Linked DNA regions of Homo sapiens. The protein of the gene in region 2 interacts with the protein of the main gene of each other region in a pairwise test. Each region holds a gene or a part of one and is shown on either strand. Other genes may lie near its edges. The genes, in order: TMEM140 and SHISAL1.

What was found.
Region 1: the proteins of SHISAL1 (region 2) and TMEM140 interact in binary tests that used the Homo sapiens proteins (3 or more experiments, as listed by UniProt).

Annotation. Positions count from the first base shown.
Region 1 is NC_000007.14:135,154,514-135,158,327, reverse strand, and holds part of TMEM140 (transmembrane protein 140), read right to left. Parts: intron 1-3,814.
Region 2 is NC_000022.11:44,281,812-44,285,625, forward strand, and holds part of SHISAL1 (protein shisa-like-1 precursor), read right to left. Parts: coding exon 3,617-3,814; intron 1-3,616.

The DNA.
Region 1 (3,814 bases), on a different chromosome or scaffold from region 2:
CCCAGCCAAGGATTAACAGGGAAATCAGGCTGTCCTATGCACATCTAGGTCAATACCCACTGCTCTGCAACATGCTGCTGTTGAGACTGAAATGTGAGCAGACTGCCTTCCCTACAGCTTCTTGCCCATGCTGCCTGCCTGGAGGGACCCCTGCCCTCCTGGTCACAGGCCCAAGGTGCCATTTTGAGAGTTTAATGCTGGGCTGTGCCCCACCTTCTTGCTGAGTTCAACTTGATGTGGCTGAAGCTGCTGCCCAGTCAAGGAGAAACAAGGAATCTATGCTCTCCCGCACATACCTAGGACAATACCCAGTGCCTGCTACGGGTTGCTGTGAGACCGAGACTCAAGTAGACCACCCTCCCTACAGCTTCTTGACCATGCTGCTCACCTGATAGGGGCCCCACCTTCTCTGTTCACAAGCCCACAGCTGGCACCATTTTGAGAGTTTAATGCTGATTCATAACCAGTCTGAATTAACAATCAGGCAATGTGGCTGCAGCTGCCACCCTGGTAGGAAAGGGACAGGGAAGACCAAGCTCTCCTAAGCACACTTAGAACAGTGCCCACCACCCTGCTACAGGTGGCTGTGAGACTGGGGAGTAGCTCACCCAACCCATCACAGCTTCCAGCAACACCAACATGGACTGCTTGGATCCCAGTTGGCTGCTTCAACAGTGCTACTGCCATCACTCACATGACACCACCTGCTCAGGGGCTAGAGATCATGCCCACACACTGGGCTCACCACTCCCACTACTAGCTTCTAAGCAAGCCATGTGGAGGCCCAAGAATCAGCCCTCCAAGACCCACTAACCACCAGAGCAGCGTAAGCTGCTGTGGGGCCTAAAAAGGGCACACTTACCCCACTGTTGCCACCACTGGGGTCCAAAGGCTGCTCAGTTGGCATCCAAGTCCCAGCTAAACTTCTGGGGACTTAGTCTCAGCTAATTACCATACTCTATCCCACTGAGGAAATCACAGAGAACACTGACCCTATGCCGAAGAAGTCATAGAAAGATCACACGACTGCAGGCATCCAAAATCAAAGTCAAAGCATCTTAACAACATGCATATATCCTCAGGAAAAAATTCTCCCTTATAAAAGCAATTTCAAAAAATTGGAACAAGCAACTGCTACACCAGACGCAAAGAAATCAATGGAAGGATACAGGAAACATGTAAAAGCAGAGAAACATGACACCATTGTATTAGTCCATTTTCACACTGCTGATAAAGACATACCTGAGACTGGGAAGAAAAAGAGGTTTAATTGGACTTACAGTTCCACATGGCTAGGGAGGCCTCAGAATCCTGGCAGGAGGTGAAACACACTTCTTATATGGTGGTGGCAAGAGAAAATGAGGAGGAAGCAAAAGCAGAAACCCTGATGAACCCATCGGTTCTCATGAGACTTATTCACTATCACGAGAATAGCATGGGAAAGACCAGCCCCCATGATTCAGTTACCTCCCCTGGCGTCCCCTCTCACAACATGTGGGAATTATGGGAGCTACAATTCAAGTTGAGATTTGGGTGGGGACACAGTCAAACCGTAACAATCATCAAAGAACCACAACAGCTGTCCAGCAGCAGCAGATCCCAATCAAAGAGAATTCTTCAAAATGCTAGATAAAGAATTCAAAATATTGATTTTAAAGAAGCTCAATGAAGTGCAAGAGAAATCTGAAAACTAATACAAAGAAATCAGAAAATTAATCCAGGATATAAATGAGAAATTTATCAAGGAGATAGACATCTTAAATAAAAACAAGCAGAAATTCTGGAACTAAAAAATTCATTGAAGGAAATACACCATATGCTCAAAAACTTCAACAGTAGACTACACCAAGCAGAAGAAAGAATCTCAGAACTCGAAGACAGGACTTTTGAAATAATCCAGTCAGACAAAAATGAGGAAAAAAGGATAAAAAAGAATGAATAAAGCCTTTGAGATGTCTGGGACTGCAAGAAGCAACTGAACTTATGAATTATTGGTATTTCTGAGGGGGAAGAGAGATTAGAAAGTTTAGAAAACATATTTAAAGAAATAGACATCCAGATACAGGAGGCCCAGTGATCCCCAGGAAAATACATTGCAAAAGGACCTCACCATGGCATATTCAAAATGTCTGAAGTCAAGTGAAAGAAAGAATTTTAAAATTAGCAAAAGTGACTAGTCACCTATAAAGGAAATCCCAAATCTCATCAGACCAATTGAGGACTTTTCAGCAGAATTCTTACATGCCAGAAAACAATGGGATGGCATTTTCAAAGTGCTAAAGGGAAAAAAAAAAACAGTGTGTCTGTCAGCCAAGAATTTTGTATCCTGCCAGAATAAGCTTTATAAAAGGAGAAATAAAGTCCTTCCCATACAAGCAAATGCTGAGGGAATTTGTCACCACTAGACTGGTACTACAGGAAATGCTCAAAAGGATCTTAAACACTGAAATGAATGGTGTTTTTAATTAATTATTTTTGATAGAGGGTCTTGCTTTGTCACTCAACCTGGAATACAGTAGTGCAATCACAGTTCATTGCAGCCTTGACCTCGTGGGCTCAAGCAATCTTCCTGCCTCAGCCTTTTGAGTAGCTAGAAATACAGACATGTGCCACCATGCCCGGTTAATTTTTAATTTTTTTGTAGAGACAAGATCTTGCTATTTTGCCCCGGTTGGTCTTGACCACCTTCCATCAATTAATGCCCCTGCCTGGCATCAATTAATCCCCCTGCCTAGCATCCCAAAGCACTGGGATTAAAGGCATGAGCCACGATGCCCAGCCAAAAGGTTGATATTCACCATCACAAAAACATACAGAAGTATAAAACTCATAGTTTGTATAAAACAATCATACAAAGGAAGAGAAAGGAATCAAATGGCAACATGACAGAGTTTCATCAAAACACAAAGTCAAAAAGGCAAAGACAAAGAGTCTATAAAACAACCTGAAAACAATAAACAATATAACAGAAACAAAGTCTCACAGATCCATATTAACCTTGAATGTAAATGGATTAAATGCTCCACTTAAAAGATACAGATTGGCAGAGTGGATGAAAAAACATGATCCATGCTGCTTACAAGAAACTAACCTTACCCATAAAGACATATAGACTGAAAACAAAGGGGTGGAAAAAGATATTCCATGTAATTATAAACCAAAAGCAAGCAGGCATAGCTATACTTATATCTGATAAAACAGATGACTTTAAATTAAAAATAGTAAGAAAAAAGATAAGGTCATTGTATAATGATGTAGGGATAAATTCAGCAAGACGATATAATAGTCCTAAATATATATGTACCCAACATTGAAGCACCCAGATTAACAAAACAAATATCACTAAAGAAAGAGGTAGACAGCAATACAATAACTGTAGGGGACTTTTAACACTCCACTCACAACACTAGACAGATCATTGGGACAGAAAATTAACAAAGAAACATTGTACTTAAATTGAACTTTAGACCAAATGGACTTATAAAACATTCTACCCAACAACTACAGAATATACATTATTTTTGTCAGCACATGGAACATTCTCCAAGATAGATCACATGTAAGGCCACAAAAGAAGTTTTAACAAACTTTTTAAAAATTGAAATTATATCAAGTATCTTCTCAGACCACAGTGGAATAAAACTAGAAATCAATACCAAGAGGAACTTTGGAAACTATACAGATAATGGAAATTAAACAGCATGCTCCTGAACAACTACTGGGTCAATGAAGAAATTAAGACAAATTAAAAACATCTTTGAAATGAATGCAAAAACACATTGTACTAAATCCTGCAGGTTACAGCAAAAGAAGT
Region 2 (3,814 bases):
CTCCGTGAAATTAAACGAAGGCAGCTGAGCATTGTGACCATTGCACCACTCCTGACGCCCCTGCTGGCTCCTAACTCAGTTATAAATCCCACGGGCGGGGGACGGCACAACGCCCCACCTGCCTGGCCACGCGATTCGGCAGCACTTGGATTTTGCCCAGCCAGCTGGCAGGAAAATCACATTTCTTATGATTGATGGAGTGCGTGTCTGTGGGGACCAAGAGGCGGGGGCTGTGTGGGGCTGAGCCACTGCCGCCAGGGCCTTCAATACTGCTGTTCAGCGGTGGCCTGGGGGCTGCCTCGGGGCCCTCACCCACCAAACCCAAGGGGTTTCTGAGAGGGGAGGCTGTGCCGGCCTCCGCTGGGGAGCCGAAGGCCTTGAGGCTGGGCCCAGCAGTCGCCCAGCTTACTCCTCTGCCCCAGCTCTGGGATCTGCTCCCCGCCCACCGTGGGCCCTCCCGCTGCAGCAGCCAGGGTGGGAGCCAGGGGCAGGGAACTCCTGGGCACTGAGGCAGTCCTGGCCCCCAGCACAGCTGCCCCTTGCCTCCACCTCCCCTGGCATCACCTGACTGCCCTGTCCTGGCAGTGCCTTGGCCTCCTGTCTCTGTCCCCCCTGCGGTGGTCCTTGACCCACTGCTTGGGTCCCACTAAGCCTCCCCAGAAGTGGCTGGCCTCATTAGGAGACTCCAGGAGCTCAGGGGATGTGGGTGTGTCTGCAGCTGTCTTCCTCCTGCTGCCCCTGCACAGGGAGCCCTGAGGAGCTGGAGAAGCTGGATTCATTCGCAGGAGAAAGAGCTGGGGTGGGCAGGGGAGAAAGGCAGAGAAGCCACAGAGGCTGGGCTCATAGGAGACTTCTGGAGGTGAAAGCAGAAGTGAAGAGAGATTTTGAAGAGCAGCGGCACTCAGCAGGAGGCTCCTGAGAGGGCTGTGAGGGGAACAGAAGCCTTTCCAGGGGCTGATGAGTGTTCAAGAACCTCCCTGGTCCACACTCCTTGCCTGGACATTCTCCAGTGTGCCCGAGGAGGGCCGCAGAGGGCGTTTGTAATGGCTGTTTGGGTGCCAAGTGGTGTTTCATTGACTGGGACACCACATGGAGGCTGGGCCACCCGGGGACCAGGGACCTAGTCGGGTTACAGTCAGAGCTATAATGCTGGAGATGTCCTGGGTCACACAGCTGGGAGGACCTTGGAGTGGCAGGAAAGGAGGCTCCTCCCTGATCTCCAAATGAAATCCCCTCTCACGTTGGTTCCTCAACTGGCAAAACTGAAGCCCAAAAAGGAAGCTCCTCACCCAGAGTCACGCTGCGTGTCAAAGAGCACAGCGGGAGTGGGACGGTGCCCGTGAATCCAGCCAGGGACTGGCTATTCCCTTATCCTGCACCACACCTTTGTGGGTTCTGACAACCTTTTTTCACGCTCACAGGGTGATGGGAACACCTTCCTGAGCCTGCACTCAGGACGGTCAGGAAAGACGAAGAGCCTCTGAGCTCCAAAAGGAAAAGTGTCCCACCTGGACCTGGAGCTCAGCTGCCCACTCAGGCTCCGTGCACAATCCCTGCAGGCTTGGCAAGCTCTCTGCATCCTGATGGCATAGCACAGTGCCTGGCACACAGCAGGTGCACAATGTGTGCTTGTTGGGGAAAAGCAATATGGAACAGGGGTAGGGTGGGAACTGCTGCTGAGACAGGCAAAAACGTTCTGGGCAGGATGAGATCGGGGAGCTGTTAGCAGCAAGCACAGTGACGTAGGAAATGGAAGACCTTGAGGCCGGGGCAGGAAAACAGCACCCAGGTGCTGAGTGCAGGGTGCTCACGACATCCTCCATCCCCTTGGCAAGTGTTCGGCGAGGTGTGAGCTATTTATTCCAAATGTATGTGCATGCAAAAGGTGCGGGAGTGGGGGAGGACCACCGTTTTAAACGGAAGATTCTCAGCTATCAAAAAGCTTGGCTCTTATAGACGTTTTCCAGTGCCTCCTGAGCTGTAGTGCCTATGAGCATCACCCTCAGAGATGCCTGGTCAGTAGGCTCTGGGTCTTTAGTTTGACAAACCCTCTAGGTGTGTCTGTTGCAAAGGATCCACATTTCAGAACACCCCACTCTTGGGTCCTGCCAACAGACATTTTATTGTCTGTAGCTCTCTGGAGTCCCCACTGCTCAAGGGTGGAGGCTGGCTTCTTCTCTACCCATCACCTCCACATCCCCCAGAGCCTGGCACAAACCCCTGCCCAAGGACCCACTCTGCCAGCATTTGTCAAACCGAGCCACACAGGGCTGTGTCTTTGTCTCCTGTGTGATGGATGGTGTCATTATTCAATCGATAAGCACAAGCTGATTTATGCATCTTATTAATTATTTAATAATAATTGAAAAGGTCACTACCTGCTAGCTATGTGAACGATCACTAACTCACGTCATTGCTGCCTCCAAAGAGGAGGCAGCAAGGATTAACTGAGGACCTACTATGTGCCAGGTAGGTGCACAGTTAATCCTTGGGAGGGGGCAGTCTTACCCACTCCTCCTTCACGAGGATCGGAAGGTTAAGAGGGGTGAAATCTCATGCCCGAAGTCAAGGAGCAGGTAAATGGCAGAGCCGGGACTCAGACCCAGGTTAGGTTACCTGCAAAGCTCCTGCACATGAACCCAGGGGTCACTGTGCGGCAAACTCCTGCACCCCTCCAGCAAGGGGGCTCTGGGATGGGTCTTGCAGCCTGGGCTTGGTATCATGATGTCCCTGGATGACGTGCCCTGAGCCCTGTGTGCCCATGGCTGCAGCTCAGCCCCCACAGAGCATCCGAACCTCTCACTCTAGCCCTTGACCTGGGAATCGACCCTCAGTCTGGCTCCTGTCCTTGGTGCTAGCCAGCCTCCCAGGGAGTTCCTGCTCCAAACGCACAGACCCTGCCTCTCCCCTTCCAACTCTAGATGCTGCACTACCCAGGGCCGCCTGGGATTAGGTCAGGCCCATCCCCACCATACTGGAACTGGGCGGAAATGGGAATTGCAGTAGACAAGCTCAGATCTGAACATAACCCTGGGGCAGCCACCCCACAAGGCCAACCCTTGAGATGCCACCTCTCTGCCTTCCTGCCTTCCTTCCTTCCTTCCTTCCTTCCTTCCTTCCTTCCTTCCTTCACAGCCTGCCTGAGTCAGAACTAGTACCCCTCATGCCATACAAGGCATGTACACATAAGGAACTAAGTAACATTTGTATTTTCTAACCTCATGCTGAAAAATCTGGCTGGACAGACTGATTTGCTTCCTTTGGCCAGATTTACAACTCAAAAAGCCATCCGGTTTTCCCCTTTGCCTTGGCAGCTAGGTAACCCAAAACTCCACTAAATGTTTAGTGGTTACCTCTCTCACACTGGGCTCTAAGCGCAATGAGCTTGCAAGCTTTGCTTCTAAGCTCTGTTTCCACCTCTCATTTTGACTTTCCTGTCTAGGCATGTGTTGTAGGCTACCCATAACAGTTTGAAATTTTTCTTGGCAAACAACAAGATAAGCAAACAATCAGGCAACCAATGAGCCAAACACTATGGCGAGAGTGATGGCGTATTCTCCAAGCTCTCCAAAGACAATGACCCAAATCATTCTGGGTCTCAATTGTAGCCACTCACCAGGCAGACGAACTCTGGAAGGTCATCAGCGGTGGGCTGTGAGCATCTCCCCGCAATGTGTGCACGGCCTGTGGGGCTTGTGGCAGCGGGCCTGGGGGAGGCTGCGGCTGTGGGGCCCGCTGACCCGGCCGAGGGGCCCGAGCGGGGTTCCCCCACCGCCGGGGGTCCTGTTTCATCCATCGTCCTTGGATGCCCCAC